Regions from separate parts of the Homo sapiens genome. Here regions 1, 2 and 3 are each linked to region 4. Evidence: fine-mapped expression QTL. A gene starts in region 4. Each other region holds a variant in brackets. All regions are shown on one strand. Distances are from middle to middle.

Region 1 (8,109 bases), 91 kb after region 4:
AGGTGAAACCCCGTCTCTACTAAAAATACAAAAAATTAGCTGGGCGCGGTGGCGGGCGCCTGTAGTCCCAGCTACTCGGGAGGCTGAGGCAGGAGAATGGCGTGAACCCAGGAAGTGGAGCTTGCAGTGAGCCGAGATTGCGCCACTGCAGTCCGCAGTCCGACCTGGGCGACAGAGCAAGACTCCGTCTCAAAAAAAAAAAAAAAGTCTATAAAATCTTATTTCTTAACGTAAAAGGAACTTTTTTCAAAGTTCCAGAGAGCTATTTTTTAACCTATATTGCTTTAGATATAAGTGAGTCTTCAGAAAATTTTGCTGGGCTAGCAGGAGAATTACATTTGTTTTTTTTCTCTTTTATAATACTTCTCTCTTATCCCCTTTAACCCTAATGTAATTTTGTCATGAGATAAGAGATGATTTCTGTCAAAGCAAATACAGCCTTCTCAGTCAATTCAGTATGAAGTGGTGACTTTCTTCATTTTCCATTTAAAGACATTTACTAATGTCTATTTTTTGGATAACTTTTCCAGTGAATAAACAAGGAGAAAAGGCAAAGACCTCCTTTAGAAAACCATAGCGTCATAAAGTTCCTTACAAATTCTATTTCGTCTGTTTGTAACTTTAAGGCTTTGATGAACTAGGTGGACTTCTCAAACCAACAGTGGCCTCTCAGAACCAGAACCTTCCTGTTGCCAAACTCCCACCTAGCAAGTTAGTATCTGATGACTTGGATTCATCTTTAGCCAACCTTGTGGGCAGTAAGTAGTCTTTGGATACGTTAATCTTCTTTTATGTTGTTTTATTAAACTGCGTCTCGTGTTATAAAATGCTTTTTTGTTTTTCTCCTTTCCTAGATCTTGGCATCGGAAATGGAACCACTAAGAAGTGAGTGTTTAATATACACATTGTTTTCTCCGTGTGTTATTTAGTGTTTTCTCCATGTGTTATTTGGAGGGTTGATTTGGCTTTCCTCTCAAAAATATGTGTAGAGATATCAAGTCTGCATCTTTTTTTTTTTTTTTTGACACGGAGTCTCGCTCTGTTGCTCAGGCTGGAGTACAGTGGCGCAATCTCGGCCCACTGCAAGCTCCGCCTCCCGGATTCACGCCGTTCTTCTGCCTCAGCCTCTCAAGTAGCTGGACTACAGGCACCCACCACCATGCCTGGCTAATTTTTTTGTATTTTTAGTAGAGACGGGGTTTCGCCGTGTTAGCCAGGTTGGTCTCAATCTCCTGACCTCAAGTGATTTGTCCACCTTGGCCTCCCAAAGTGCTGGGATTACAGGCATGAGCCACCACGCCCAGCCTCAAGTCTCTATCTTACTCTGTTCTATATAAGTATATAGCTAAGGAAACTTTATAATTAGAGACATTTAATATTCTCACTTATGTTTATTTAAAGTGATGTAAATTGGAGTCAACCAGGTGAAAAGAAGTTAACTGGGGGATCTAACTGGCAACCAAAGGTTGCACCAACAACCGCTTGGAATGCTGCAACAATGGTGAGTTGAAAAAGCTCCTGATAGACTAACAGTTGAATAATTTAGTTAAATATGTAACATGAAAATGTTTTTAAAGTGATAGACATAAATAGAAGGATTGTTACTGAGTTTAGAAGTATAAGTAATTGTATTTCTTTCAAAGGAAGCTGGTTGCCTATATTTACCAGATACATTTTAGTGGCTAACAAGTATTTAAGGGTTACTTTGTGCCAGACATATTCCAGTAAATAATAATGTTTTATTTTTTATAATCCTCCTATTAATGTGTTAGTCACTATTATTATCCCTATTTTACAGATGAGGAAGTGGAGGCTCAGAGTTATTAAGCAATGTGCTCAGGATTACAGAGATCTTAAATGATGAGTTGAATTTTTATAACCTAGGCAGCCTAACTATAGAACATATGTCCTTAATCACTACTCTATATTACTGACCTCAAATTTTTTATTTATTTTTCTAAAATACAAAATCTTGTGATTTCATTATTGGTAAAGAAACTATACTTGCTTCGGTTTTGTCATATAATTTATATATATGACAATGTGTTTGGCAATTATATATATGTCATATAACTTACACAGTTGATACTCATTATTTGTGGCAGTTAAGTACTTAAGTCACCCCAAACACTGAATTAGTGAACACTGAACCCTTGCTGGGGGAAATATATGCATATATGTATATGTCACATAGACGGTCCTTTTAGAAAACCTCATTCTAGTATATTCTATTTATTTTATGAAAGAGGAAATAAAGTTCAGAAGTGTTAAGTGACTTGCTTAAGGCTGTCGCACTAACTGGTGCCAGAGTTGGAATTTTAGCCCTGTCCAGCTGGCCCCAGAGTCAGAGTTTCTTGCAGTATGATGGACTCCCCATCCTCCTTCTCTATCCTCTGGTCTGGTATGAGAGCTGAACCAAGGCAGAGTGTCCTTTGTTCCATCTCAGCTGGAGGTGAACTGTATTGGATGAGTCAAATTTTTGCCCCTCTGCAAATGAGCATGAATGGCCTTGAAAGCACCAGGAGTGTTGATTTTTGGTGTCACAAAGTTTATCATGTAGGTGAATTTGCAAATATGGAATCCATGAATAATGAGGATTAACTGTATTTTCTAATTAAATAATTAGCATCTAGTAATGAAGAGGTTTTAGTATGTTTTAATTACTGTAAGGTATGGTAGACCCAGAATAGCTCTGTGGCTATTCTCCTGTCCTTGGCCAGTTTCTATCTTACCAACCAACAAATTTTCGTCAGTCAAAGAAAACTCCTTGTGGAAAAGTTTGAAGCATTCTTTCTCCAGACAGTAGGCTAGTAGCTGTGTTTTGATTACACGGGCTACACGTTACTGACAGCTGTCCTGTTACTGTTAGAGGCTGCGGTTGTCCTTATAGCCACTTCCAGAGCACTGCCCTGTTTTCCGTGGGTTAATGATATGTTAAAATTAGTAGGACTGAGCTAAAAATAGTATGTTTGTTAAAATTTGTGCATTTTATTATATAGCTTAAGACTTCATAAATGGAAAGTAATATTGAGATTTAGCTACCTTTTTAAGGCAGTGTTTTTTTGTTGTTGTTTTTGTTTTCTTTCAGACAGTGTTCATTGCCATCACTAATTTTATTATTTTGTATTTTTTTTTTTTTTGTGACGGAGTCTTGCTCTTTTGCCCAGGCTACATTGCAGTGGCGCGACCTCAGCTCACTGCAACCTCTGCCTCCCAGGTTCAAGTGATTCTCCTGCCTTAGCCTCCCGAGTAGCTGGGATTACAGGTGCCCACCACCAGGTCCAGCTAATTTTTAAATTTTTAGTAGAGACTGGGTTTTATTATGTTGGCCAGGCTGGTCTTGAACTGCTGACCTCAAGTGATCCACCCGCCTCAGCCTCCCAGAGTGCTGGGATTACAGGCCTGAGCTACCACGCCCAGCCTATCATCACTGATTTTAAAACTTTGCATTTAAGTAGTTTAGATTTTTATACACACAAATACACAATCTTAAACATGTAAATGTTGCTGTCTTGAGGGAATTGGAGCATGTATCACCCCACTTCTAAAGATTTTTTTTTTCCCTAAGTGCAAAGCAGTTGAAAAGCAGATTTAAGTTGAAATCCATCTCTTTGACTCTGAATCCAGTCTTCTTCCCACTATAACACACCTCACTGACTA[G/C]GGTATGGTAGGAGTTTAGAGTAGTGGATTTTATGGACTCGTGTGAATTATGACATTGATGATGTATGAGGAATGATATAAATACCAGTGCTGCTATTAAAATATAATGAATATTTTCTTATATTAAGTTAGTATTAATCTATATGAAGTATTAGGAGTTCATAGATAGCACTTAAGACTGACTACTAAAATGTAGTAGGTATTTAGTCATGTAGAATTTGTATTTAAGTTGATAAGGTAACAGTCTTTATCTTGCTGTGTTATATATGGTAATGTGTATCATCTCCTAAGGATTTTGCTTAAATATTTATATGTATTTTATGGAGTTTTCTTTTTAATGGCTAATGTTTGGGGCTGATAATGTGATTCACTACTTAAGATAAACTGCTGCTTTTGACATTTCTTTACATTTCTAACCTTTTTATTAATCCTTAAACACTGTCAAGGTTTTTCAGTGTTTTTTAAATTTAACACAAATTCATTGGAATTTTATTAAAATATATATTATACTACAAATTCTTTTAATTAGTGCTTGCTTTTTTTCTGTGGTAGACATCTGATGCAACCCTGTTTATGCAATGCCCAAAATTTTGCACTGTTGACACTGTTGATAGAATTGATGTTTTAATGGTACTTGTAATCAATAAACTATTTTTTATATAAAGAGATGAGGCCAAAGACTACAATTCCCTTGTCAACCTTGATAGTGTTTTAGTATAGATGTTCTTTCATTAGATACTGGAAATACAAGGGATTTTAGGTAGTTAGTGAATGTACATGTGAACTAAAATGCTCTCTGTGTATTTTCTGTTGTGTAAGTACTTGTTCTAATCCAGTGTTATTGCATTATGTAATTGTTCTCCCTGGGAAAAACAGAATGGCATGCATTTTCCACAATACGTAAGTGACCAAAAACGAGCCTTTTTGCAATAAATTGGCATGCTATTAACCACTGCTGTAGCAGAATCTCATAACCTTTCAGCTATTACTTGTTTTCACATTCAGATTTTCAATGTGCCAGAAATTCTTCCTAGCATCTACTGATTTCATGGGTGTGTTGCAGAATTGATTCTGATGGTGGCATGGGAAATACCGATTTTTTTTCTTGCTTAATATTCCGCCATTTGCTGCCAGATGGCTGGGTGTCTGTGTGTGTATCTGTGCTGCCACTATGCACTTGATGACTTCTGAATGAAGGGAAATGTTGATTGTGGTAATGTTTAAAATAACAACTGCATGAAATCTTACAGGCTTCTGCTCTTCTTGGCAGTTTGTCTACTGCTCTTGCAGATCTTGGTTTTAAGTAGGGAGAGACCAATAAGTCCTACACGCTCACCCGAATACTAAACTTATAACTATTCACTTTAGTGTTATTTTTTTAAAGTTATATTTCATTTAATTTCTCCATGCATATGTTCAAATTGCCATATAATTTCAGTTATTTTATGTTTTAGCAGTGTTATTGGTCTTTCACCTTTATTCAATTTCAGTTTTCATTATGAGAAACACACACAGGAAATGTTGTTAAGACAGCAACTATATCTAAAATGATTCTGTTCTCAAATTGTATGTTTACAGATAATCAAAGTAGTAGGAAGAGGGGAACTTAAACATCATAGTGATAGATGGTTCTTTTAAACATGAAAGCATAAACTGACCTAATTGATTGTTCCTCTTAAATAATTTTTGGAATAAATTAGAAAGCTAACGTACATACTCTATATAAGAACTATGGCTCATAGAAATAGTCATACTCAATAGTAGTTTGAAACCTTTGGAGTTTTTTGAAAAGAGTGAGTAAGATCCTTAGAAACTAACTTTTTGGAAGATCAGGTTATTGATTGATTTGAGATCTTTACATTTTTTTCTTTGAATGCTAAAGCAATCAGGTACCTAAGTAAGAAAACATTCAATAATACTTTTTCTGGGTAGACATTTTTTAATGATAGTGATAGGCTTTAAATTTTAGAACTATTTAGAACTATTTAAGATACTTTTTTAAATCTAAAGATTTTTAAAGCTGTAAAAAGCATGATGAAATCTTAGATCACTGCTGTATCTAAGTTTAAGTGGTATAGTTATCCTTCTAATAAGTCTGCTTTTCTGCTAATTTCAAAACACTTTTTTTCACTGACCATTAATCGACAGTTCTTAATGATCACAAGTGTCACTTACTCACAGCTGTCTTAGCAATTCTTTTTAGTGGAACTACAGCTACTAATTCCTTGAACTCAGTTGACACACATGAGTTATACTTTCTTGTTCATTTTTCCTTTCACTATGTTAGGCACCCCCTGTAATGGCCTATCCTGCTACTACACCAACAGGCATGATAGGATATGGAATTGTAAGTATTTTCCTAGGTACAGCTTTTGGAAAAAATATTGATTCATATATAACATGTTTTTATTACAATTTAACCTAAAAAAGAATTTAGTGCTCCTCATACTCCTAGCCCTAGTGCCTAATGCAGTAGAACCATAGCATTGGTTTCATAAGTATGTCTAGAATAATCATTATACAAGAGATCTTATGCATTAATGTTCATAGTATTACTTGGTTTATTTTTCTCCTCGTAACTTTGCTGGGCCTTTTATATTTCAAACATTAATGTTAATTCTAAGCCTTTGTTGCTGTGACCATATATTAAATACCAGTGAGGTCTTATAACCTGATATTGTAGGGCATGGGAGGGATTAACACTTGAATTGTATAGAGATAAATTTAGTCTGATAAAGGCTAGAGAAATTTTCCTGTGACAATGATTATTACAGTACAAAAACAGTCTTTTAACCTTTCAAAATGCCACAATGTGCATTTTAGATTGCCCTTAGTTTCCCAACTCTCAGTATATAGAGACTCAATTAGAAAAGAAATGGTGCTAGTAGCTTCAACCCACTGGTATGTATTTGAGGAACTGTTCCTGGTAGAAGGCAGTACCGTGTCCCTTGGTATTGCTACTGTGCCTGCTATGTTACTTCTTTATGTATATGATATGGAAGTAACTCCTTTTATACATGTGGAGAAGTTTCACAGCTTTTTTTCATAGTCATTGCATTAAAATGTCTGCTGAGGCTGGGTGTGGTGGCTTACGCCTGTAATCCCAGCACTTTGGGAGGCCAAGGTGGGTGGATCACCTGAGGTTGGGAGTTCAAGACCAGCCTGACCAATATGGTGAAACTCCGTCTCTACTAAAAATACAAAAATTAGCTGGGTATGGTGGCGCACACCTGTAATTCCAGCTACTTGGGAGGCTGAGGCAGGAGAATGGCTTGAACCCAGGAGGCAGAGGTCACAGTGAGTTGAGATCATGCCACTGCACTCCAGTCTGGGCAACGGAGCAAGACTCCATCTCAAAAAAAAAAAAAAAAAAAAAAGTCTGCTGAGAAACTCAGGCCATAAACTTAAAATGAAGCTCTAAATGCAAATAGTAGTCTGCTTGAAACAATAAATAGAACTTCTTGAAAGGAAAGATTTTAGAGCATTGCATTTTAACCAAAACAGTATTCTGTTTGTGCATTATTTTTACACTAGGTATTGTCACTTACTAGGTTAATTTTATACCCTGTAGTGGTAATTTTTAAAGAAACATATTTGGTTGAGATTGTATTTTCAGTTACTCAAGAAAGAGTTAACCTCTGGTTTGTAGTTTAAGCTCTTTCTTGATTCTTATATGAAATAAAATGGAAGAACTAGAGCAGGCTTATTCAGAGAATCAACTGTCTTCACTTGTGATCACTTGCATAATGGCAAAAGTACTTGATTTGTTATACAAATTTACTTTGAAATTTCTTAGCAGCGAAGACAGAGTCTTAAGTTTTCTTGATGTCTAAACCTGATAAATTTGGAAACTCTTAGTCTTAATCATTTTATCTGTTGTAATACAATAAAGTTTACATTTTGCAACTCATTGAATAGAAAAAGTTAGGCTTTGTTACTACATTTTAAAAATGAGCATGTTAAAGACTTTACTTACCAAAAGAAAAAAAAATACTCTCGAAAGTTTGTAGCTGTTAGTCTTACTTATATTCAGAGGAAGTTACCCTTTGAGTCAAGCAAAGGTACTAGGACCTGTCATCCCTGTTGTCATTGTTATTTACTTAGTCACAATAAGGAAGATAGGAGTCAGTATCTTTTGATATTTTTCTCTTTTTTAGCCTCCACAAATGGGAAGTGTTCCTGTAATGACGCAACCAACCTTAATATACAGCCAGCCTGTCATGAGACCTCCAAACCCCTTTGGCCCTGTATCAGGAGCACAGGTATTACACACTACATGTAACTGTGGTAATGTGTTTGATTTGGAAGGAATATGATACTATAAAACCCTTTTGTACAACTTGAGAAACAAGTTACTAGCACTTTCTACCTTCATTATGGATATTGCTTGCTTCATATCTTTCTTATATAAGAGCTTTAGGAATATTGATTATTTGGAGGGAAAGGATA
Region 2 (8,109 bases), 120 kb before region 4:
AGCTATAATTTTATTACAAAACTGTTCTTTTGGCATTAGTTAGTTACAGTGATAGCAAGATAATGTGAGTGTGCAGACTGGCTCTGATGGAACCACTGTATTCCCTGCTTACTGAACCAAACTTCAGCTACCTCATATCCATTACATACAAGTGACCTGCAGTTATTACTGCTACAAATCTTGACGCGTGTACCGCTGAGGGAGGAGCTGATGCTAAGGGATTTGATTACATGTTGATAAGACTACAAAAGTTCGTTTATGGGACTTTTTCTTCCTCTTCCCATGCAATGACTTTGCTTTAGAACAATCACATGGCTTAGAGCTAGTCTGAGTAGCAGCAGCACCCAAGGAGCGTCAGTTCTTGTTAAAAAGCAATACCTGTGTGATGCATTTTTACGCCACAGGCAAAGGGAAGGATCACCCTCATTTTAAACTCCTGCAGAGTCCCTTAATAAAATATCAAAGCATTCCATCAAGTTCTTCTGGGTGGTGTTATTGCTGTACATTTGTTGGTGAGTCATTTTCTGTGCTGTGTTTGCTTTGAAAGGATCTTCCAATTTATCTCCAATATTCCTTTCTTATCATGTCCTTTTCTTTAGCTAGGATTTCACATAACCCTAATGCATTATTAAGAATGTCTTCCTTATTGACACACTGGTTTTCTAGCATGTCTTCATAGATACCCACAAGAAAGGCAATTAGGTAGGGGGAACTATGACTTGGTTGTAAATCAAGTAATTGATTTAACAGATTAGGATATTTGGAAAGACCACGATCCTGCAAAATTCCTTTCAAATAGTTCCATGAACTATTATGTGGTACTAGTTGAATCATTTCCAGAGTGTATTGGACTTCTCTCTCCAATACAGCACAATCATTGTAGCCAGTGGTGTTGGAAATAACAAAATATCTTCGGTTCCAGACAGAGTTATTTCTCACATCCTCTTTGAGAAGTTGGTCCACATACTGCAGCTCATTATCCCAAAGTTTAAATTCCTGAATAACCCATTGTCGATGCTGCCAGGCATGATAATTCTTTGCATCCTGATTAAGAATATTATCAATAAATTCAGGCTCCTGAGATGGATCTCTTAGCCATTCCACTATTACTCGCCTATTGTGACAAACTAGATAGTTTTTGGGCTGCCCCTCAATTATTTCAGTGATGTAGTTCATTTCCTCATGTAGATCCTTCTGAAGTGACTTTAAGAGAACTCTCCGGAAATGTCACACTGTATAATTGGCTGCATTTAACTCAACAGCATCCCGGGTTAGCTTAAAACCTCGTTCGCTTCTTTCTTCATGCTGCAGGACAGCTCGGAAGTAATCAAACATCTCTAAATTTGTCACTATAAATGATCTGGACCACGGGATTGGGGCCATCATTCTGCGGCACTGGATCTGTATCAGCCCATTCTGTTCTGTCCCTGTACGGGACATAGGAGGGCGAATCCAGGCTCAGAAACCCGTCGTCCATGGGGGACGCCACGGCTTCCCCAGCCTCTGCTGCCATCTCTTCCTCGTGCTGCTCCTGGGGCAGCGGTGGGTGCGGCTGGGGCGGGGGCTGCTCCAGCTGCCGGGGCTCACCGCCTTGCGCAGCCTCCCCGACCCCCTCGGTGGCCGCCATCTCAAGATGGTCCTTATTCTTAAGGTGTTAACAAACAGAAGTGCAAACAAACCAGTTTTATTGCATATTGGTGCAATAAAAACATTATATGTCCCAATTAAAAATATGAAGAGGAGATATTAGAGGCCCAAAGGAGAGAATGGTTAATTCTATCTCAAGTGGGGAGGGGTGGTAGGAGATCAAATAAGACTGTATCCAAAAAGTGACATTTAAACAGAGTCTTGGAAAATAAGTAGATGCTCAGCGGGTGAAATATATTCTAGGTAAAGGAATGGAGGTTCTGAGGCACAAATCCATGTGATGCATTCCAGGAGCTGCAAGCAGTTCATTATGACTGAGGAGGAGGTTTGGAGCTAGATGATGACCCAGGAGACCTAATGAGAGATGAAGCTGGAAATTGATGCTGGGACCAAGTCACACAGAGGGCCTCCTGTGTTTCACAACAAGGACTCAGGAAACCCTCGTGATCTGGACAGTATCATTGAGATTGTATCACCTAAGCTGTCCAGTGCAACCATGAAGTGGAAAGCATGTGAAAAAAAGTGTAAAGTACCTGAAACCTTTATTGGATTGCCCTTTCACCTGGGTGCAGCTACATTTTAACACCCGAGTAGCCTGCACACTTGCTAGCCCTATTGGGTAAATACTATTGAGTCCTTAATAAACTACTGAGTTGTATTTGCCACCAACTCCTAGGGAAAGTTACTGCGCTTCTCTGGGCCTCAATTTCAACATCTATAAAATAAAAATTTACCTTCGTAGTATAGAATTTTACTTTTGTTTTCCCCCAAATGTTTTCAGATGCATGATTCAGGAACATTAGTCTGGTATAATTAAAGGGAAAACATCAAGAAAGGCTTTTGAGTCAGAAAGACCTGGGTATGAATCCTGGCTCTCCATGTGTTAACAGAGTTACTATGTGACAACTGCTTGAACTGTGGTTTTCTCATATACAAAATAGGGATAATGCACCTATCAGTGCCTGAAGCATAGCTATTACCCAATAAGTAGCACCGTTTTTATATTGTTTTTAAAATTTACATCTACCCTATAAGGTAGGTGAAATAGGTCTAATGTTACCCTAAAGTTGAAGATCCAGAGGCTTGCAGGTATTAGTAATTTGACAAAAGAGCAGCCAGCTAGATAAGTGGTAGAACAGGGCACAAATCCAAATTCTTATTCTTTTCATAAACGGTGCAGCTTCTTTCCTCCAAGCAGTAGGATGGGATTCAGATCTCTGTGATGCCTGTCAAGCGAATGATTTTACAAACAAATTAGATAGCCCCACACCTGCCTTAAATCTGAGCTCAGGGAACAGAAAGGCCTGGGTTATCTCATGCTTTATAATCATTTCTGGATGTGTGACTGGGATACTCTAGCCGTGTCTAGCTTTAGCATGACTATAACCTGCCAGGAGAGGGAGCTCATACTGACTCCATGCTAAGGTTACAGATACCCTGGAGACTTCAAGGGCTGCAGCACAGCGGGGGACAGGAAGGGTGGGGTTTTCCTTGTTACGGGTAA[C/T]GACTACGCAGCTTTCTGGGAATGCATATTTTGGGAAAAACATTGACATTATTTTTTTAAAAAAAAAGGTGAGATTATGACACAGAAAGAAATGACCTTTACCAGGAGGAAGTAGAAAGAAAAAAAAGAGGAAGTGACTAGAGCAAAGCAAGACAAAAGGAAATTTGGCTCAACAGGGTAGGTTTTGTTAATGCTGCACTTTTATTTAAATAGAAGGTAGACAAATGAAATATTTTTAGACTTGTACTGCAGGAACATAAGAATGGAATGAATGTTTTAAAAAATATTCTGAGAACAGAATTAGCATGTGTCCTCTTAATAATTATTTCCCTATTTTGCTTCAATAAGTATTAACTTGCCATATGTCCAAACCCTGTGCTAGGCACTAAAGATATGGAAATGAACAATTGAGCTCTTGATCTCAAAGAATGGTCAGTACAGCAGAACAGACTTACACATGAGCAGTAAATTACAGGAAAGCCTGCCACCTTCTATGCTCTGGTTGCTAGTAGAGGACAGAGGAGAAAGCTCTTATATCACCATGGGGGAAGGTCAAAGAATATTTACGATAATTACAGATAATTTTTTTGTGGGCACTTACCACCTGGCAGGCAGTCTGCCAAGTGCTTTATGTGGATTATGTCATTTGAGCCTCATAATAATGCAGGTGTTATTCTGTGATTTTCATTCTTTAGATGTGAAAATAGAGAAGAAACTTTTCCAAGATCATAAGTGGTGGAGAGAAGTTTTCCAAGGAGAAAACCTGGGCTAAGTATTAAAAACAACAACAATAAAATCAGACAGAACTGAAAGAGAAGAAGAATGGTGAAAAGGGGAAATGGGGGAGAATATTCTGTGCAGAAATAACAGTATGAAAGAGGCTGGTCAGCAAGTGACAGCAGATTGCAGTGGAAAAATCACAAGTTGTTCAATGTTACTGGAGTGTTCAATGCATGTGGGGGGATAGAAAGAATTGAAATTAGAATGATAGGCATGGGTCAGATCACAATGGGCTAGCCATGTCCTGGAAAAGAGTTTGAACTTTATTCTGAAACCACTGAAGCATGAAATAAGGACAACAAAATAATAAGAATAAGAATATTGTTATTGTGTAGGCTGAATAATGGTCCCCCAAAGATGGTTTCACATCCTGATATGGTTTGGGTGTTTGGTGCCTCCCAAAAACAGAGCCCCATACTGAGTTTAATGCCCTGCTGTTGCTCTCTTGAAATTTTTAATAATTACTTTACAAGGGGCCATCCTGCATTTTCATTTTGCACTGGGCCTCACAAATTATGTAGCCAGTATTGCCTAATTCTAACATTAATCCTGAAAAACAAAAAAGTTATACTCACTTTATAAACCAAGAGACTGCAAATCTCAGAGAAGGAGTATAATCCATTAATAAATGCCTTGAATCAGGTAAATTCTGCTACTTGCCAGTCAGGGCCCCTAGGACAAGCTTACTAATTCCTTCCAAGCCTCACTTTCTTCTTTTGCACAGTAATTACAATATCTGCCCTGCAGAGTGGTCATGAATATAACATATGTAAAGTACTGACACAGTGCTAGCAGATCAGAGGGACTCAGATGGTAGTTGCTGTTGCTCAAAGTCCAAGACTTAGTAAGAGATGAAGAAGGATTTCACGCCTATAGTTTTCTTTTTTTTTTTCTCTCAGACTTGTATTTTGGAAGAGAATGCACAATGTGGGTTGGTGAAATGTAAGACCAGAGGCAAGAAGACCAGTTCAGAAACTGTGGCAATGTCATAGACAATTTCTGGAAAGACTGTCCATCTCATGCCGTCTCTTTTTTCTTTGATATTTGCCTCTAATACATAGAAGTCATCCTCCAGAGCTGTGTCCCCATCACATGACTCAAACTTCCTAAACTTCTTAATCTTTGTTGGTCCCCAGATTTCCCTAGAAATTTGGAACTTTGATCCAAGAGATGCAGAGGCTAAGCATTGTTGGAACCAAGTCTATTCGTAGGAGACTCTCCAGAGAAGGCCCAGAGCAACCTGCTTGCTGCTGAGGTCCCCGGAGCCACTCTGAAGCCTGCCTCTCCACAATGATTTCTCAGTTTCTCCTTTCATTCCACACAAGTATACATCCAATAAATCTTCTTCCATTCCCTTCTGAAGCAACGAGTTGCAACCAATAGAACCCTAATACATGTAACAATGCTAGAGTTATTGGGAGAAATGGTTGAAACATTAATCAAATTCGTGTAATAGGTTTAGGGAGAAGAAGGTGCACATTTAGGAATATGTAGGTGCAGAAGAAAGAGTTTGGAGTGCCTTCCACATTTCTGGCTTCAGTGACTGGGTTGATGTTGCTACAGTCATACAGGTAGGGCATATGGGGAAAAAAAGGAGTGATCGGAGGGGAAGATACTGGACTCAAGGTGCCTAGAGGACATTCAAATGGAGATATACAGTTGGAAACTAGATATGTGCTTCTGGAATTCAAGAGCGTAGTCTAGGCTGGCAATACATATTTGGGAATTTTCAGCATTTAAATTGTCATTACCGCCATGGGGGTGAATGAGATTGCCCAGAGTATTAAGTTAAAAAAGAAGGATCCAATAATGAAATCCTATATTTAATACCGATGTATAAGAAGCAGGTAGAAGGAAAGAAATGCTGAAAGGAGGCTTAGAAGGAATGGCCAGGGAGGGAGAAGCAGAACCAGGAGAAGTGCCAAATGAAAGGAGAACGTGGAAAAGGATATGATGTCTAAATCAGTTCAGCATCATTACCAGTGTCCTCTTCATCTACAGCTGAGGCTGCAGTCACGCTATCAAACATACCTCCTGAGCCTGCTCCCAGACCCAGGGAATTTTTTTTTTTTTAAAGACAGAGTCTCACTCTGTCGCCCAGGCTGGAGTGCAGTGGTGCGATCTTAGCTCACTGCAGCCTTCGCCTCCTGGGTTCAAGCTATTCTTGTGCCTCAGCCTCCTAAGTAGCTGAGATTATAGGTGCCTGACACCACGCCCAGGCTAATTTTTGTATTTTTAGTAGAGATGAGGTTTCACCATCTCGAACCTGACCTGAGATCATCCTGACCTCGGGTGATCTCCCCTCCTTGGCTTCCCAAAGTATTGGGACTACAGGCGTGAGCCACTACGCCCTGCCCAAACCCAGGGAATTTCTTTAAGCTCCATCTTCTGCCTTTTGCTATGGCCCTAGATTCTCCTGCACTGCTTGGCTTTTTTGGATGGATGGCTTAGAGTAACAGCTGATGGCTGTTAAAATATTGTGAGTTCACCAACAATGAAAGAAATACAAATCGAAACAGCCTAAGATTGTTAAGATTCAGGCCAGGTGTGGTGGCTCACACATGTAATCCCAGCACTTTGGGAGGCCGAGGCAGGCAGATCACCTGAGACCAGGAGTTTGAGACCAACCTGGCCAACATGCTGAAACCTCATTTCTACTAAAAAATACAAAAATTAGCTGGATGTGGTTGTGCATGCCTGTAATTCCCAGCTACTGGGGAGGTTGAGGCAGGATAATCACTTGAACCCAGGAGGAAGTGGTTGCAGTGAGCCAAGATCGTGCCACTGCACTTGAGCCTGGGCAACAGAGTGAGATTCTGTCTCAAAATAAAAATAAAAAATAAGATTCTATCATGTACCTATACCTGATATGGTTTGGCTCAGTCACCACCCAAATCTCATCTTGAATTGTAATAATCCCCATGTGTCAAGGGCCGGGCCAGATGGAGATAACTGAATCATGGGGATGGTTTCCCCCATACTGTTCTCATGGGAGAGAGTAAGTTTCATGAGATCTGATGGTTTTATAAATGGGCGTTCCCCTACACAAACTCTCTTACCTGCTACCATGTAAGACATGACTTTGCTTCTCCTTTGCCTTCTGCCATGATTATGAGGCCTCCCCAGCCATGTGGAACTGTGAGTCAATTAAACCTCTTTTCTTTATAAATTATCCAGTCTCAAGTATGTCTTTATTAGCAGTGTGAGAACAGACTAATACAGTAACTATATCATTAATATACACAAATAAAGCAACAAAGCCTTATGTTGGCAGAGGCTGTGGAGAGGAAGGCAAGTGCAAACTTTGCTGATAGCATTTTAGGTACAGTCAACTCTTCTGCAGACTAACCAGGGAAGCAGTACATGAGCTGTATGTGCCCTTTGTTCCACTTTGGAACATACCTCAAGGACATAAGCTAAAGGAAAAATGTAGTAAGCAGTGAAGATTCTAGTACCACTATTTATAATGGCACAAAATGAAAACAATCCAAGTCCTGAGCTTTAAAGTAATTTTTAAATAATATCCAACTAACTGATTTGGAACGCTGTGTAACCATTAAAAATGATAACCAAGTGAACATGGAAACATATCTATGAAATAATGTTGAGTGAAAAAAGCAAAGCACACTAAGCGTCAGTGAGGGCATAGGAAAGTGGGAACCCTCAATATATTGTTGGTGGGAATATAAAATGGTACAGCCACTTTCGAAAACACAACCTGGAAGTTCCTCAAAAAGTTAAAAATAGAGTTATCGTTTGACAATGTCACTCCTAAGTATATGCCCAAGAGAAATGAAAACATATGTCCACACAAAAACTTGTACACAAATATTCATAACAGCACTACTCATAATAGTCAAAAGGTAGAAACAACTCAGATGTCCATTGGCTGATAAAATGATAAGCAAAAGGTGCTATACTTACACAATGGAGTATTATTTGGCCATAAAAAGGATAAAGTAGGTACATGCTTCAGCATGGATGAATCTTGAGAACATTATGCTAAGTGAAAGAAGGCAGTCACAAAAGACCACATGTTATATAAAACCATTTCTATGAGGGAGGATTCAGATGTGATAGTAAAAGGTACAGGGTTTCTTTTTGAGATGCTAAAAATGTCCTCAAATTGATGTGGTCATGGTTATACAACTCTGTGAATATACCAAAAACCACTGGAT
Region 3 (8,109 bases), 82 kb before region 4:
AAAATCTTACATATTCCCACTCAACCCCACCTTCTTCTGTAAGTTACCGTGCTATCAGTTTCTGCCATAAGTTTCTCTACGCACTTACATATTTAGGAACCTGCAATGGCATACACGGTTAGGGGTTTGGGAAAGAGAGGGGTGGACTACCATGGCACAGGGAAGTATTTTATCCCTGGCATTAAGCCCTTTGCATGTCTGTTCTTGAACTCCTAGCCCCAAGCGATCCTCTTGCCTCTGCCTTCCAGAGTTCTGGGATTATAGGCGTGAGCCACCGCACCTGGCATGCAAAATGTTTCTCAGAATAACCCTATGAAATAGGTACTGCATATTGTCATCCCTACTTGACTGCTGAAGCAGCTAAGGTAATCTCACCCAAAGCCCCAGGACTAGTAAGTAGCCAAACAGGGATTTGAACCACAGCACTTTAACTCCAGTGTTGGCACTGTTTACTGGCTGTGCTATGGGAGCCTCCTGGTGTTCTCTCTATTTTTTACTTAATTTACAGTGTAAATGGACTCTTCTACAAACTTTTCTCCAGGTTAGATAGCTAGAAATGGAAAATTTTGATACATACTTCCAAGTTGCTCTCTAGAAACCGTGATAACAACTGATACTCCCAGAGAGTTTGAGAGTGTCATTTCCCCTGAAGTTTTGCTAATGTTGGATTTTATTGTTTATTCATTTTTTACAACCTGAAGACTAAAAATATTTCAGACTTATTTTAAGTTACATTTCCTTATGTACCCATGAGACTGAACATTGTTATATGCTTATTGACCACTTACATTTCTTCCTCTGTTTAATTAACTGTTCAATTCCTTGCTTCATTTTTTAATAGTTTAATTTGTATTTTATATTCATTGATAAGTACTCTTTATGTATTAAGGATATTAATCTTCTGTTGTATAATTGGCAAGTAATCTGTCCTTTTCACTCTTTAACTTTTGCTTATAGTATTTTTGTTGTATATTTCTGGTTTTTTAATTGAGATTTTATTCGGTTTATAGATCAATTTTTGTTTTTTTTTTAAGACAGGGTCTCACTCTGTTGCCCAGGCTAGAGTGCAGTGGTGTGATCTTGGCTTACTACAACCTCTGCCTCCCAGGTTCAAGTGATTCTCATGCCTCAGCCTTCTGAGTAGCTGGGATTACAGGCATGTGTCACCACGGCAGCCAATTCTTGTATTTTTAGTAGAGACAGGGTCTCACCATGTTGGCCAGGTTGGTCTCGAACTCCTGACCTCAAGTGATCTGCCCACCTTTACCTCCCAAAGTGCTGGGATTACAGGCATGAGTCACCGCACCCAGCCTTTTAGATCAATTTGAGGAGAAATGACACCTTCACATTATTGATCCTCCATTCAGGAAATGGTACATCTCTCCCATTATTTGTTGTTGTTTAGTAAGGTCATGAAGAATATTTATTCCTATATTTAAGTATTTTTATTTTCTAAAATTTCCCGTTCTCTTCATTTGGGAATTAATGCAAGATTTTTACTAACTTTTTAAATATTAGGCATCAAAAACTACTTAGACAACTGTAGGTTTGCTAGTTTCTCACCTTGTCACTGTTCCTTGTATATAGCATCTTCTTTTCTTAAATTTAATTTTCCTTCATGGCTCACTGCAGCCTTGACTTCCTGGGATTAAGTGATCCTCCCACCTCAGCCCCCCAAGTAACTAGGACTACAGGCACATGCTACCACATCCAGTTAATTTTTGTATTTTTGGTAGATACAGGGTTTCCCTGTGTTGCCCAGGCTGGTCTTGAACTCCTGAGCTCAAGCAATCCGCCCTCCTTGGCCTCCCAAAGTACTGGGATTACAGGTGTGAGCCACCACCCCGGCCTAGTTTCCTATTTCCATTTTGAGGTGCCTGACTTAATGTTCTACAAGCAGTAATCAGTTTAAATTTTGTGGACCAACTAGGTAAAGCAGTTAATTATAATTATGCTATCATCATGCATGAATATACATTAGAGTGGTGCAAATGCTTTATTTGAGATAAATTTTTATGTCCTCTAAATTAAAGATTGAGTAGCAAATCGAAATTAAAACTAGAGGAAAAGTCAAAGTTCACCTTCTAGCTAGAGTTGTTATAGCAACTCCAGGAAATAAATCTGCATACACAGAAGGGAGAGCAAGAGAAAATAACTGTTGATCTCTAATATGAGCTCTAGGCAATTGTTTTTCTATTTCTTCAATACTTTCATGTTGAGATGACTAGGATTATGATTCTTTCTTTCATGTATTCCATTATATTCTCTGTCATATTTTTCTCTTGAAACCTGTCTCAGGAAGAATCAACTTTCTGAAGGAGACAGAATCATCATGCCTTCACATTCCTAAAGATGGGGTAACCTGGGTTTGTTCTTTCTCTCTCTATATATATGTTTAATATGGAACACTTCATGAATTTGTGTGTCATTCTTGTGCAGGGGCCATGCTAATCTTCTCCGTATCATTCCAATTTTTAGTATATGTGCTGCCGAAGCCAGCATGGGGTTTGTTCTTTCTGATCCCATTTGGTTCATTCATTCATTCAACAAATATTCCTTGAGCATTTATGACACTGGTTTTCAACCTGGTTACATAATAAAACCACCCAGGGAACATTTCCAAAATACCATTACCAGGTTTCACCCATAGATTAATGGAGCCCAGGCCAGGCCTGTACATTTCTAAAGCTCCTCAAGCAATTAAGATGCATATGAGGGTTGAACACAGCTGCCCCATGATATATTAGGTCCTGTGCAAACAAGAGGGGATGCAAATAAAAATAAATAATTGCTAACATTTATTGAGGGTGCACACTGTATGTCAGGCACTATTCTCAGTTCCTTATGGGTTTTAACACATTTAATCCTCTCAACAACCCTACAAGGTATTACTGTTTATAGACAAGAAAACTGAGGCACAGAGAGGCTAAGTAACTTGTCCAAGGTAACACATCTAGGAAGTGGCATCTGGAGTCCATCCTCTCTTTTCTATGGCCCATCCACAGTATCATAGTCAAGTAAATAATGAAAAGACAGGAGATATGTATCAAGAAGAACACCTAGAGTGACAGGTGGAGGAAGGAGATAGGGTCAGGAAGGCTTCCTGTAGGAGGTGGCAGTTCAATTAAATAGAGGAAAAATGGAAACCAGAGAGCAAAGTGGGGTACAGAGTTCCTCAGATTCCTTCCTCCCTTGTCTTGCTACACAACCTGCCTCCCTCCCCTAGTCCTGGGAGCTCTGTCCTCCCTCTTCTCCACACTGAAAACACTGGAATGCCCTCAATCATCCTTAATATGCCTAACATTTCAACTGGGAAGTCTGAAGTCATGCACAATTACTCATGCAATTTTTCCTCCAGACAATAGGTCCTTCTGTGTGCTTCTCATTCAAATATATAAAGCTTCACTCTGTTGTTTTAAAAAAGTCTTTGTTGTAGAAACAATTCACAAATGTGTCAAACACACATTGGTTCCCCACCCCCTTCTCTGTCCCCTCACCTGATTGGGATGCTAGCTTGCCAGGGACGTGTGCCCACTTGCCGACTCTGCCCAGAATGGAAGCTAGCCCTGCATTTCACATCACTTCTAACCAAGTAGGGCTCTAAGTTTAAGTTTGAGGTTAACCTCAGGGGGCATTTAGCCACACCTGCCACCTCCTCTGCCTGGCCTCATGGGTGGGAACAGACTTCTTTTGGAGAAAGGGAAATGCTTGATGCTGCTAATTAACTGTGGGAGGAAAGGAAGCCCTCTCCAGACA[G/C]CAAAAATACCAAAGAAGAACATTATAAAAAGCAGCCTTTGTACCAGCCAGCCACATCATTCAGCCCAGCCCAGGCTGGGGCTGGAGGGAAAAATAACAACTCTAGCAGCCACTAAGTTCCTGCATCCCAAGTGGGCACCTCAGGAGGTCATGCCCTGAGTGAATGTCTGCTAGAGGAGGGGGTTCCAGGACGGTGGCGGGAGTCTGGCTGCCTTCCCAGCTGGTTTTTGGCAAACCACAGGAAGCTGCCTGAAGCTGGCATGTTTATATGGTGACTTGTGAGACTTCCTTAGAATAGCAACAGGTCTGTTTCATAACTTAAAAGCCAAAGAGTGTGTGTCCATGGAGGTATGAGGTGGAGCTGCAGGACCTTACTTTAGAGTCTGGGTAATCTCACTAGGGCAGGTCGCTTTCCCACCCTGTGCTTATCAATTTAGGGGCTGATCCTCACTCTGCAGATGGGACTATCTTAAACAGAGAAGTGTCAGCTTCCAGCCAGCCCAAATCCCTGAGGCTTGATTGCTACAGGGCTGAACTAAGTTTGAGTATCTGGGAGACTCAGGGTTCAGCAGGGAGTCTGTTGGGGAGGGCTGGGGTTGCTTCAAGAATTGGGATTTGTTCACAAGTAGGAGGGCAGTCAGGCTTTTTGGCTGGGACCTTAAGCTCAAGAGGCTGCAGAATTTGGCTGCTGACCAGTACAGGGGAATGAGGTGAAACCTGAGGGTGGCCTGAGAATGGAGGATTGAGGAGCTTAGAATTTGAAAGCTGTCAGAGCTACATTGGAGGCTCTTGGAAGGCATGTTTACAGGGTCTGCCTTATTTTATAGGGGCTGGGACTGATTCCCAAGACTCTAAATTGCCAAAAGCAGGAAGTTGGGGTACTAGGATTTCATACCAGGCAAGTTTCCCAGTCTCTCACTCCAATAACATTTTTGCATCTGGGCAGACAAATGGGAGATTCCACCACAGTAATACCACATGTACAGGATCCTTGGCAGCTGCGCGTGTGGTGGCACATCCCTTTCCCTCCCTTCCTATTGATATAGGATCTCCTTTATAGATTCTTCAAGTGTCAGAACTGAAAAGATTTTAGAAGCCATGTAGACCAATTATTTTATTTAACAGGAAAGGAAACAGAGAACCAGAGAAAAATGACTGGCACAAGGGCATATAGCTAGTTAGTAATCACTAGTATTGAAGCCAGTTTTGTTGACAACCAGTCCAGGGCTTTTTCCACAACACCACGCCCTTTATAACAAATAACATTCGTATATCAGGGGCTTCTACCCATTCCATATTGTATTTCCCATTTTACTCTCTTCCATGGAGAGTACCTTGAACTGTACCTTGCTCATGGTTAAACTACTTTCTGAAAAGTTTCCAATATTTGGTATTTTGACAAAAAAATAAATAAATAAATAAATAAAATAAAACCCTATTAGGTTAGAAAGAAAGAGGTTATCACAGCCAGAGGCTGCCCATGTGAAATGTGACCAGGGTGGAAGAGCAAAGTCCCAGAGTCTAAGGCCTTGATGCTCAAAGTTGTCCATGGACCAGTAAGCATGGGTATCACCAGGGAGTCCCACCCAGATCTGCGGAATCAAAACCTGCATTTTAACAAGAGCCTACATGATTTGACTAAGTTTGAGTAGTACCTCTTTGAGGCAAGGCTCTGCAAAAATTCCTTCTCTTCCTCTTCCTCCCCAAATGCGTAACCTTCTACCACCTCCCTCTTGCTCCTTTCTTCCACATGCTCTGTCCCCAGTTTTACTATGTTAATCTGGTTCTGCCTTTTCTTGAAATTTTAAAGCCACAAAGGGGTGGAGTGGGGGTGGGGAGGGGGGACTGGATGTATTTTAAAAGGGGACTGAAAATGGAAACTTTTGAGAAAAATAAAATATGGCCAATTGGGAAGATCTTTTGCAGCTCCAATGTCACGTTGTTAATGTTGAAATATAAACATCTACTATGTTTATATTGGCTTACTTGTAAAATCATCAACTTTGGTTATATTTAGGAATTTGATGGCTTGGAAAGCACACTGAAAAACTCTGAGAACAAAAATATTTTTCCCCTTAACTTTATGGAAAATAAGAAAATCTCTTTCAAAAAAAACAATTCCAAGAACGTCTTTTCTCTACTTTCTTTATTATCCCCATCCACCATGGCACCATGGTACATTTTTTCCTCTTAGCTTTCTTACTCTCTTTGTTCCTAGTTCAGTTTTCTCATTTCATTAACATTTTTAAAAATTGGGGTTTTCTTATTATTTATTTTTTATTTAAAAATTAGGAAATAGAGAAGTAAAAGAAAGCACAACAGAATCCCGCTGATGTAGAAACTACATAAACTTCTTATATAAAGGTATCTTAAACCTTTTTGTGCATATATTTGTTAACAAAAATGGGATAATTCAGAATATAGTAATTAATATCTACTTACTTTTAAGTGGAACTATAAAATACTAACTTCTTTATATCTGTGAACATACCTCAACAACATTATTTTTGTTAAATTCTGCCATTGAAATTGTATCATGATTGATTTGGTAATATTTCTATTGCTGGATATTTAGGTAATTCAAACTTTTCACTATTAAAAGCACTACTGGGCATGGCACAGTGGTTCATGCCTATAATCTCAACACTTTGGGAGGCTCAGGCAGGAGGACTGCTTAAGGCTAGGAGTTTGAGACCAGTCTGGGCAACACAGTGAGACCCTAATCTCTAAAAAAAAAATTAGCTGGACATGGTGGCCCACCCCTGTGGTCCTAGCTACTCAAGAGCCTGAGGTGGGAGGACCTCTTAAGCCTGAAAGGTCAAGGCTGCAGTGAGCCATACTTGCATCACTGTGCTCCAGCCTGCAACAGAGCAAAATCCCATCTCAAACAAACAAACAAACAAACAAAAAGGAAAAGGAAAAATAGAAAAGCAGTGAAAAGCAATACTGCATATTCTTAATGATTTTATTACCTTAAAAAAAACTATTTAATTAAGTCATGAACACATAAAGGCATCATTACACTTGTGAAAAAAATTTAAGATAACATGAAATGCTTTTTGACCCTCATTGCCAGCCCTGGTTCCCTTCCTCTCCCTGCTCCCTTGTTCCAGCTCTCCCACTCCCACGCCAGCTCGAGGAATCCAATCATCAACCCAGCTTTTGATGGGGATGCATGGGGTGCAGGGTACAGAATTAAGTGTTATAAGGATTTCAGTCAATGACAGTCTCCACCCTAGTGAGGGAGAACAGGCATGCATTCATGGGGAGATGCGAATAACAATTACAAGCCGTGCACCATACCACTGAGAGCAAGCTAAGGTTAGGCAAACTGAGCACAGTCCCAATTACTGCTGAGTGCACATGAAGTCCTCTTCAATTTTCAGCAGGATCACTGCTCCAGGTTTTTACTTGACCTCCTTGCCTATAATCTCTCCCTTTCAACCCATCCAGTTTACTGCTGATAAAATAATCTCAAAAGACACTCTTCTGATATGTGTGATCTTGTTCATTCCCTACTCCTCTTATTCTCCCTGCTAACCTTCCCCTCATCTTCAAGACTCAGCTCAAACTTAAATTTACTCAGTATGCAGCTACGGAGCATATATTAGGTGCTAATCACCTCTTCTAAAGCTTTCCTCACTCTAGGTTCTGTGAGCAACTCCCTCCTGGCTTTTTCTCTTGTAACAGATTCTAGTTTGTTGGGATTGTTATTTTTCTGGCCTACCTCAACCCCAAACCATGAGTTCTTAAAGTATAGGACCTCCATCTTATCAATCCTGTACCCTCAGCACCCAGTACAGTGCTGGGTACATAGTTGATGCTTAATATTTGTCTGCTCAACAAAAAGAATAAATAAATGAGCTTCCCAGAAATGTCCCACTGGTTCTTAATGTACTTTTAGGATTTGGAGGTTACTTCTTGCTTAGAGTAAGAAGCAACTGCGTTAGGTGGCAGAAGTGGAGGGAGCCTTTGAGGTGACATGTTCTAGCTCCTTAAAGGGACATGTTGGTTCTTGCCCCATTCTAAGTCTTCAGATTCTACATTTGAAACAAACAGCCTATTGCTGTCTTTGCAATATAAGAGGTACTAAGGAAGTGTTTGTTCAAAAAAATAAAGAAAAGGGGCTTTTTTGATGTTGTTGTTTTTATTTTTTGAGATGGAGTCTCACTCTGTCGCCTAGGCTGGAGTGCAATGGCACGATCTCAGCTCACTACAACTTCTGCCTCCCTGGTTCAAGTGATTCTCCTGCCTCAGCCTCCTGAATAGCTGGGATTAGAGGCGCCCGCCACCTCGCCCAGCTAATTTTTGTATTTTTAGTAGAGATGGGGTTTCGCCATGTTGGCCAGGCTG
Region 4 (8,109 bases):
ATCTGTGGGATTTTGGAAAGTTACTCAATTTCTAAGACTTGGCCGGGCACGATGGCTCACGCCTGTAATCCCAGCACTTTGGGAGGCTGAGGTGGGCGCATCACAAGGACAGGAGATCGAGACCATCCTGGCTAACACAGTGAAACCCCGTCTCTACTAAAAGTACAAAAAATTAGCCAGGCGTGGTGGCAGGCGCCTGTAGTCCCAGCTACTCAGGAGGCTGAGGCAGGAGAATGGCGTGAACCCAGGAGGTGGAGCTTGCAGTGAGCCGAGATCATGCCACTGCACTTTAGCCTGGGCAAGAGAGCAAGACTGCCTCAAAAAAAAAAAAAAAAAAATTTCCAAGACTTGTCTGTTTTCTTGTATTGGATGGGCACGATACTTGGACATGATACTTTTTGAAATTATTGTTATGAGCATTACATTTTTAAAATGTAGTGTTTTTAGCACATAGGAGGCAATAAAAAAAACCTGCTCCTTCTCCGAACACTCCCTGCCTCTCTACAACATACCTTTTAGTTGGAAGAGCCTAGGAAATACCTAGGAAATGTGTTATTCAAGTTTTTTCCTTCTGTTTTTGGTCTGCTCCTTTACAATCAAAGCAAAGAGGCCTTCAAGTTGAGAACTAACTAGTTCCCAAAGGACTGATGGGTTCACTGTAAATAGTGTTTGGCACTTAGAACCTTTATGCCTGACACACAGTTCAACACATATTTTTTGAAAGAGTAAATTAATTAACAAGGTACTGAATAAGGATGATGCTCCAACCAGATAATTATGGGATGGACATGCTTTATTTATTTTTAGAAACAGTGTCTTGCTCTGTCATCCAGGCTGGAATGCGGTGGTAGGATCATAATTCACTGCAGGCTTAAACTCCTGGGCTCAAGGGATCCTCCTGCTTCAGCCTCCCAAGTAGCTATGACTATAGGCTTATGCCTCCATGCCCAGTAGACATGCTAAATGTGTGAAAAAGTGGGCAGATTTTATCAAATGAGAGGTTTGGAGTGATGGTGTGTCCGAATGCGTGATTTCAAAGCGTTCTCATTCATTCGTTCAATCACCATCTACTGTGTATCTACCTTGCATCAACCATAATACTAGCATGGATGTATCTCTGCACCCCCATGTTAGTGCAATTAGTCAATCACAATAATAATTAGAGAACAGAAGGATATATGAGTAACAAAAGGAAATCAGTAACTGCTTATTGGTATGTGAAACAGCATGACATCCAAGTATGTCAAGTAGTGTGATACTGTCTGGAGTGCATTTAAAGGAATCAGAAGAGATGAGGCTCAACAAGTAGTAGGTAGGTAGGGGAATTTAGAGGAATGGGAAGAGACAAGGCTCAACAGGTTTAGGTGGCCATGTGAGTTGGCACATGTGGAACTTCAGGTAAGATATTTCTTAAATAGACTGAAGAAACTGACACAGAGAAAACTTAAGTATATAAGATAAAGTAGGTCAGTAATGCCTATTCTTAGTTCTAATTCCCCATCTTCTTCTAAATTGGTCCATGTATTTCATTTCACAATTACACATAAACCTCTACAATGGTCACTGATTATTTACATACTTAGAAACTTCTAAAATGAGGCCAGATCATGAAGAACCATGTATGCCAGGTTGAGAGTTCTTAATTTCATCCTTTAGGGTAGCGATGGGGGAGTTACTGGAAGATTTTAATGCAAAGAAAAGACAATCACATTTTGGTTTCAGAAGGATCTGAATTGGAGAGTCAGGGTATAAAAGACAGAGAATCAGCTAAGAAGTTACTAAAACAGTCTAGTATAACAGAGATCATAAAGGCTGGAACTAAGGCAACAGAAGTGGGGTTAGAGATGGGATGTGTTTGAGAGATAAAAGTAGATTAGGCTTGATGAGGGAAATAAGACAGAAGGAGAACTCAGAATCACAGCTTTCTGAGCGGAGCTTCTGGACATGTGGTGAGGCCATTAACGGATATAGGGAACAGTATGGATTAAAGATGTAGGATGCTGGGCAAGGGCAAGAGAAGTTCAGTATTGGCCATGGTGAGTTGGCATCTGTGGAACTTCAGGTAGAGATATTTCCTGAATAGACCAAGGAAACTGACACAGAAAACTTAAGCATATAAGACAACATAGGTCAGTAATGTCTACCCTTAGAACAATTCCCCATCTTCTTTTAAATTTCTCCATATATTTCAGTTCACAACCACACATAAACCTCTTCAATGATTACTGATTATTTACATAGTTAGAAATTCTACTATGTATACTTGGAAAAAAATAAAATATTTCTAACAGCAGCTTGTTTGTTAATAGGGTAAACATGTCAACAATTATTGTCACAAAAGTGGTCTGAAAGAACCTCTTTGGTAAAAGTAATAGTGTAATACTTTCCTGTTATGTACTTAGGAATGACTGGCATTTTCCCTAAGGATAAAATATTCAGCTGTTGATAGCTAGACCATGTTAGTGTTGACCTCAGATTGGGGTTTACCAATGCAGAGGCTCAGGCCAATCAGTAACTTATACAGTGGAACCCATAGACCAGTAGCAATGATGGCTGATAACATGTCTTGAGAATTTGGTAATTCCACTGCCCAGTGGACGTGGGGCAGCAAACTGGGCACCAAACCACAGATGGATTGCAGTACACTGAAGGAATTCATTATAGTTTTGTGAAATTGGAGGCTGGCTTGACAAAGATGAAGCCTGCTGGGATTAAAAACTTGTGTGTTCTTGGCAAGAGCATGTTGCTGCAGAATTTCACCAGCCATAGTGGGGAAAAAAGAGGGGTGAGGGGGCGTGGGGAAAATGGGAGACCACAAAATTCCTGATATGATACATAAAATGTTAAATATCTATCAGCTTTGCATCCTTTGAGAGTCACCAGATTGAAGCACAGTATTTTGGATTTGGCTGGCAGATGGTGTACACAGACTTTCTGAGAATGTTAGCATTTCATTTGAAACTAGCAAGATTACATGTGACTATCATGGTAACTTAGCACTCACATATTTTTCAACTTATCCCTAACCCTGGGTTGAATGTAGAGGCTCTAATAACATATAAAAGGCTTTGTTAATGTATGGTCTGGGTCTCATTGAATAGTATTTCAGGATGTAATACTTCTTTTAAAATGTCCACAGGGCAGTGTCAACGTCTTTCCATGGAAATCTGGCTCACCCAATAAGAGAAAAGAGGCCAAAGGTAAGAAAGACTAAACCAGGGGAGATGGCAGGCAGTGATGTCTGGACTGTTTGAATGGGACTTCTCCATTTACCGCCCCTCTCACTTCCTTCTATGGTCTGGACCTTTAATCACCACAGCAGTCAGCCATGTAGGGTCAAGCTAATCGCTGTTGACATCATCCTACTACTTCCCTTTTCAAATTCCAGTGAAGCTATGTGTTTCCTGTCCTATTCCACACCCTAGAGAATGAATACCGGCCAGCTAGTATCTAAATTTAGAATGGCAGCAACGTGTCGGGTTTTCGGAGTAGAGATAAACAAAACCAGGTGACATTTCCAAGCCTCTCAAGGAAAGGGGGGAAAAAACCTTTCTGGGGTAAGTAAATAAGGAGAGCTTCAATAGTTCCATGGTAGAGAGAGGCCTGCTGGAAGGTTCAGAAAATAGGCCGTTTGGAACCTTCTCCTTTAAGCCAGGAGGGCGGCTTTGGGAGGCGTCTTGAAATACATTCTTGACTCTGCTGGGAAAGCTCGGGGAGCCAGAGGCCTAATACCCCCCACTTCAGGGGAAGCTGTGAAGGCAGCTGCACCTCCTTTGTCAAGCTGTTGGTTTCAACCACAGACACGAGGACACACTTGAGGTGGGGGGATAAGGGGAGAAGCCTGCCGCCCCGCCCCACCCCCGCCAGCACACCGCCCTCGCCATTCCTCTCCCGCCCCGCCCCGCCCGGCGTCTGTGACCCCGCGGGCCGAGCCTCAGGCGACCTGTTGGCAGGGAGAGTCACGTGATGCGCCGGCTGTGCACTCCCCTCGGGCGGGCCTCCTGTTGCGCCCGCCTGGCGAGTTCCATCACGTAACGCGCGGGCGCCGCCCAGCTCTTCCCTCGCTGAGCGAGGGAGGGCGGGCGTCGAAGAGGAAAGGGAAGGGGAAAGGGGCGGGAGAAGGGAGGAGGGGCGGTGTCCGAGTCACGTGACCCGGGGCAGCCCGGAAAGCTCCGAGGAGGAGCCTGGCGCCGCCATTTTCCTGCAGCTGCCTGTTCCTCTTACCCTGCCCGGCTCCAGCTGACCCGGGAAGGGGTGGGCTGAACTGAGGCGGGGGCAAGGGAGTGCCCGACATCTTGTCCGACTCCGCGGGTGACACGAGCCGGTTCTCTCTGGACTGGTGGCAGCGCGCGGCCCCGAACCGCGCCCCAGGCCGGCAGGCGGGGAAGGAGCCGGTGGGGGTAGGGGGTGCGGTGGGGGGTGGGGACCCTCCGGCTCTTGGGGGTCCCAGTCCCCGCCGGCTGCTGAGCGGGTGGGGTGGTGGAGGAGCTGCAGAGATGTCCGGCCAGAGCCTGACGGACCGAATCACTGCCGCCCAGCACAGTGTCACCGGCTCTGCCGTATCCAAGACAGTATGCAAGGCCACGACCCACGAGATCATGGGGCCCAAGAAAAAGCACCTGGACTGTGAGTGAAGCCGACCGCGGCCCCCGCTCCCCGGCGCCCGCGCGACCCGCGCGCGTCCTTCTCTCTCTCTCTTGTCTTTCACCCTTCTACTGCCTCTTCCCTCCCTGCGTCTTCTCTGGCACGGCCGGTCCTGTGCCCGTTGAGCTGTGTTCTTTTGCTTCCATCACACCTGCCTTCACGGCCTCCGCTCCCCGTCTCAAAATCTGACAAGCCACTCCCCTCCCTATTCCTAGGGGACCCTCGTCTCCCTGCCCGGTGCGCTACCACACCCCATCATACCCAACCAACTTGCTTCCCCACCTGGCTTCTCACCCCCTACCCGTCTCCACTGCAGCCTTCTGCTCTTCCTTCCCACCCGTCCGGTGCCGCCTCGTCGCCCTCGTCTGAGCGTCTCCAAGCCCCATTGTTTCTTCATCAGCCTCCTTCGGGTTTCAGTAAACGCCTGGTTCCTTGCATCCAGATCCTTGTTATCCCTCCGGGCTGCCTCCCTGGAAGGGATCCCCCACTTCCTTTGCTCCACTAGCTGCTTCGCCCATCCCTTCCTGGCTTTCTGTTCCACCTTCCCTCCTGCTTTTGGGTTACCTTTTCATCGCCTCTATAGTAGCTTCAGTGTAGTTTCTTCGACTCATTTTAAATACCATACCCAGTTACCCGACTTTTATTTCAGATTACCTTCTTTGTGGGAGTGAAAGTAAAAGGATTCAATTTGGTGTAGGGAAAGCTTTCTGGAAAGTTGGGATTTTTATTTGCCTCTGGTGGAATTTAATCGTTGTGTTGTCCATACTTTTGACTGGGGTGAGTTTGTGACTGTCAGCTCTGCCCCCCAGCTTTTCACATGGGGATATGGAAAAAGGCATTTTGCTGATACTCTTATCAGTTCCTGGAACTGTTAATTCTGGCGGCTTGAATTCAGAAGCTTGAGTGTTAAGCGTAGACTGTTGGAATTCCAAATGGATTAATAAATTTACTTACAAATAACATACATCCCTTAAAAAAATTGGCAAAATGATGTTTGATGATGCTTGAGTTTGGATGTTTTAATTATGCCAGTTACCTTTTGAGGAACTAGCTTTAGCTTCTCTTACACGACATAGTATTCGTCCATTCGCTAACGTAGATACAATTAGTAGAGCTAACTCCTCGTAACTTTTTTCTAACCTGGAAGTCACCTGTAATACCCTCCTTTTTCTTTGCGCTCTTTTACCCCAGGGTACAAAGCTCATTGGATCACTCAAGCCAATGGAGCTTAGACCTGAAACTTTTCAGGGAAAAATAGGGCAATAGTCACGATAAGTAAGTTCCCTTTTTAAATGACTGGACACATTAGTCTGACTGACTTTCATCATACATGAAAGTTACTTTGTTTTACTGTTTGAAGCAAGAGTGAGCATGCCCTGAAAGATAATTCACTGTCTGGAAGCCTGTTTTGATTTCTCATTTGGACTTTGGCCGTAAAGTTTGCACTTTAAAAAAAATGTACGAAATGTAGATTCTTCCAAGTTACTGTGCTCATGAATGCTGTTAGAACAAGTTTTTGCTACACAGAAGCCTATTATTCTTTGTGATTGTTCCTCCACTGTGGAAAAAAGTTTTAAATAAAAAAGCATTAGTGCTTGATTCTTTCAGATATGCATGCAGGCTGCTTTTAAACTCTCAGTCCTTGCTTGTCTTAGAGAATGGAGAATATGTTTAAATGGTGACACTCTTATGAACAGAAAACTTTTTAAAATGCATCGTAAAGCCATATGTGATTTTTTGATTATCTGATACGTGTAGTAGACGTTTCTGCTATTTACGGCTCTTCAAATACTACTTGGTTTGCCCTACCAAATCTTACAGTTTGTCCTGACACTGTGTTAATTCTTTTGTTAGTTGCTTTTGGTTTTTTTTTGTTTTTTTTTTTTGTATGGGAGTATGAAGAAACTAGTTGTGACTGTGTGAACTATTTTCCTCTTTCCTCATTCAAAATAAGAATCGATAAGGCTTTTAAAAGTTTTTTTTGTAAAGGTTTGTGTCTTATTTCAAATGTAGCAGTGGTTCTTTTAAAGCATTGTCAAAAAGAGGAGAAAATAGGTAGGGTTAGAAGAGTGCTATTTGCATGTTGTTTCATAAATGTTATTAGCTATTTCTCTTGTTATAGCCACTACTGCAGATAGATGGTAACTGGGATTAGGTTTGGAGGATAATCTTGCATTTGTCGTTCTTTTTCTCTACCACTTCTGTGTTTACAAGCTCCCACGTTTTTGGAACTTGAATATACCTGGTAGTATTTGATTTAAAAATATATGTGTCGTTAATGTGCTTCTGTTTCTTTTCAATGAGGTTTTAAAATACAGGGATACTATTTTCCCTACATTGTTGATTAAAATGTCCTGTAATCAGTTCTCACTAATAAAATACCTTTATCTTAGGTAAAGTCTGACCAGTGAGTGGTTTACTAAACAAATACCTTCCTTGCACACACTAACATGCTTTGAGAAAATTAAAAAGTCTTCTACGGACAGTTCATGGTGTTGACATCATGAACTTTAGGCTTTAATACAGAAACCTGTCATTTCAAGTAATTTTTTGTCTTTTAGGAATTTTTCTTTATAGTGAAAGCTTAGTTTATGTGCACCTTTTAATGCCCCTAGCAACTGATGCTTATTTATATGAATCTAATGAAAATGATTTCATTTTAAAATGGCAGCATTTAACAAAAAATATGCTTAGGACTGTTGTTTTTCGTATAAGCCCTTAGAGTGTGGAGGTGGTTTCTGTCAGTTTCTCGCCAAGATCTTTCCACATTAGGAAGTGATTATTAATAATTCATGAATTATGGCTTAATTCATACTACATTATATACTTACTGAAGAAAGATTTTTTTGCTTTGCTTATACTGTAGGTGTTAGTGGATAATAGTGTTGACTAGCATCCCTAGTGTGAAAGAGTTGTCAAACTTGAAATATGTTTGTAAAAATAAACACGATTTCCGTTTAATCTTAGGCCTTTAGTAGCCATAATCAAGGTAGAGGAATAGCAGCCCTTATATTTGAAGAACTTCAGTTTTCCAGGCACTTTCTCATCATCTCATTTAATCCTGTCTCACAGCTGGAGGTGGGGGCAATTCATATACATAGAAAGTAGCTTCTAATTCCATTTAGCAGTACAGAATGCTTAAAAGAACCATAATTATTGCAGGATAGAAAAAACAAATTTTTTTTTTTTTTGAGACGGAGTCTCGCTCTGTCGCCAGGCTGGAGTGCAGTGGTGCGATCTTGGCTCACTGCAACCTCTGCCTCCCAGGTTCAAGAGATTCTGCCTCAGCCTCTTGAGTAGCTGTGACTACAGGCGCATGCCACCACACCCAGCTAATTTTTGTATTTTTAGTAGAGATGGGGTTTCACCATGTTGGCCAGGATGGTCTGGATCTCTTGACCACATGATTCGCCCGCCTCGGCCTCCCAAAGGGCTGGGATTACAGACGTGTGAGCCACTGTGCCT

The links. PIP is the estimated chance that this variant, and not a neighbour inherited with it, causes the effect.
Region 1: its variant is fine-mapped to the expression of PICALM in whole blood (TOPMed, PIP above 0.99). The same link has a PIP of 0.9 or more in gastroesophageal junction, sigmoid colon, sun-exposed skin, tibial artery and tibial nerve.
Region 2: its variant is fine-mapped to the expression of PICALM in whole blood (TOPMed, PIP 0.99).
Region 3: its variant is fine-mapped to the expression of PICALM in whole blood (TOPMed, PIP above 0.99).

What each region holds. Positions count from the first base shown.
Region 1 is chr11:85,974,521-85,982,629 of GRCh38, reverse strand. PICALM (phosphatidylinositol binding clathrin assembly protein) reads left to right here. Exons shown (of 20, transcript NM_007166.4): 15 at 627-758; 16 at 855-885; 17 at 1,402-1,501; 18 at 5,948-6,007; 19 at 7,818-7,922. Among named protein-coding and RNA genes, the nearest start is that of PICALM, 91 kb to the left of the region's middle. The variant G/C (reference allele first, on the strand shown) is at 3,661.
Region 2 is chr11:86,188,652-86,196,760 of GRCh38, reverse strand. LINC02695 (long intergenic non-protein coding RNA 2695) reads left to right here and starts at 3,263. Exons shown (of 2, transcript XR_001748524.2): 1 at 3,263-3,328; 2 at 3,847-5,293. It also overlaps the pseudogene FNTAP1. The variant C/T (reference allele first, on the strand shown) is at 3,152.
Region 3 is chr11:86,147,620-86,155,728 of GRCh38, reverse strand. It overlaps the pseudogene RNU6-560P. Among named protein-coding and RNA genes, the nearest start is that of LINC02695, 42 kb to the left of the region's middle. RefSeq lists an enhancer at 3,863-4,363 and cis regulatory regions at 3,954-4,464, 7,160-7,210. The variant G/C (reference allele first, on the strand shown) is at 3,757.
Region 4 is chr11:86,065,168-86,073,276 of GRCh38, reverse strand. PICALM (phosphatidylinositol binding clathrin assembly protein) reads left to right here and starts at 4,193. Exons shown (of 20, transcript NM_007166.4): 1 at 4,193-4,626. The coding sequence starts at 4,497. LOC124902731 (a long non-coding RNA gene) reads right to left here and starts at 3,353. Exons shown (of 2, transcript XR_007062823.1): 1 at 1,580-3,353; 2 at 776-959. RefSeq lists silencers at 3,679-3,948, 4,099-4,268, 4,409-4,458, 4,529-4,578 and enhancers at 3,204-4,403, 4,143-4,844, 4,845-5,547.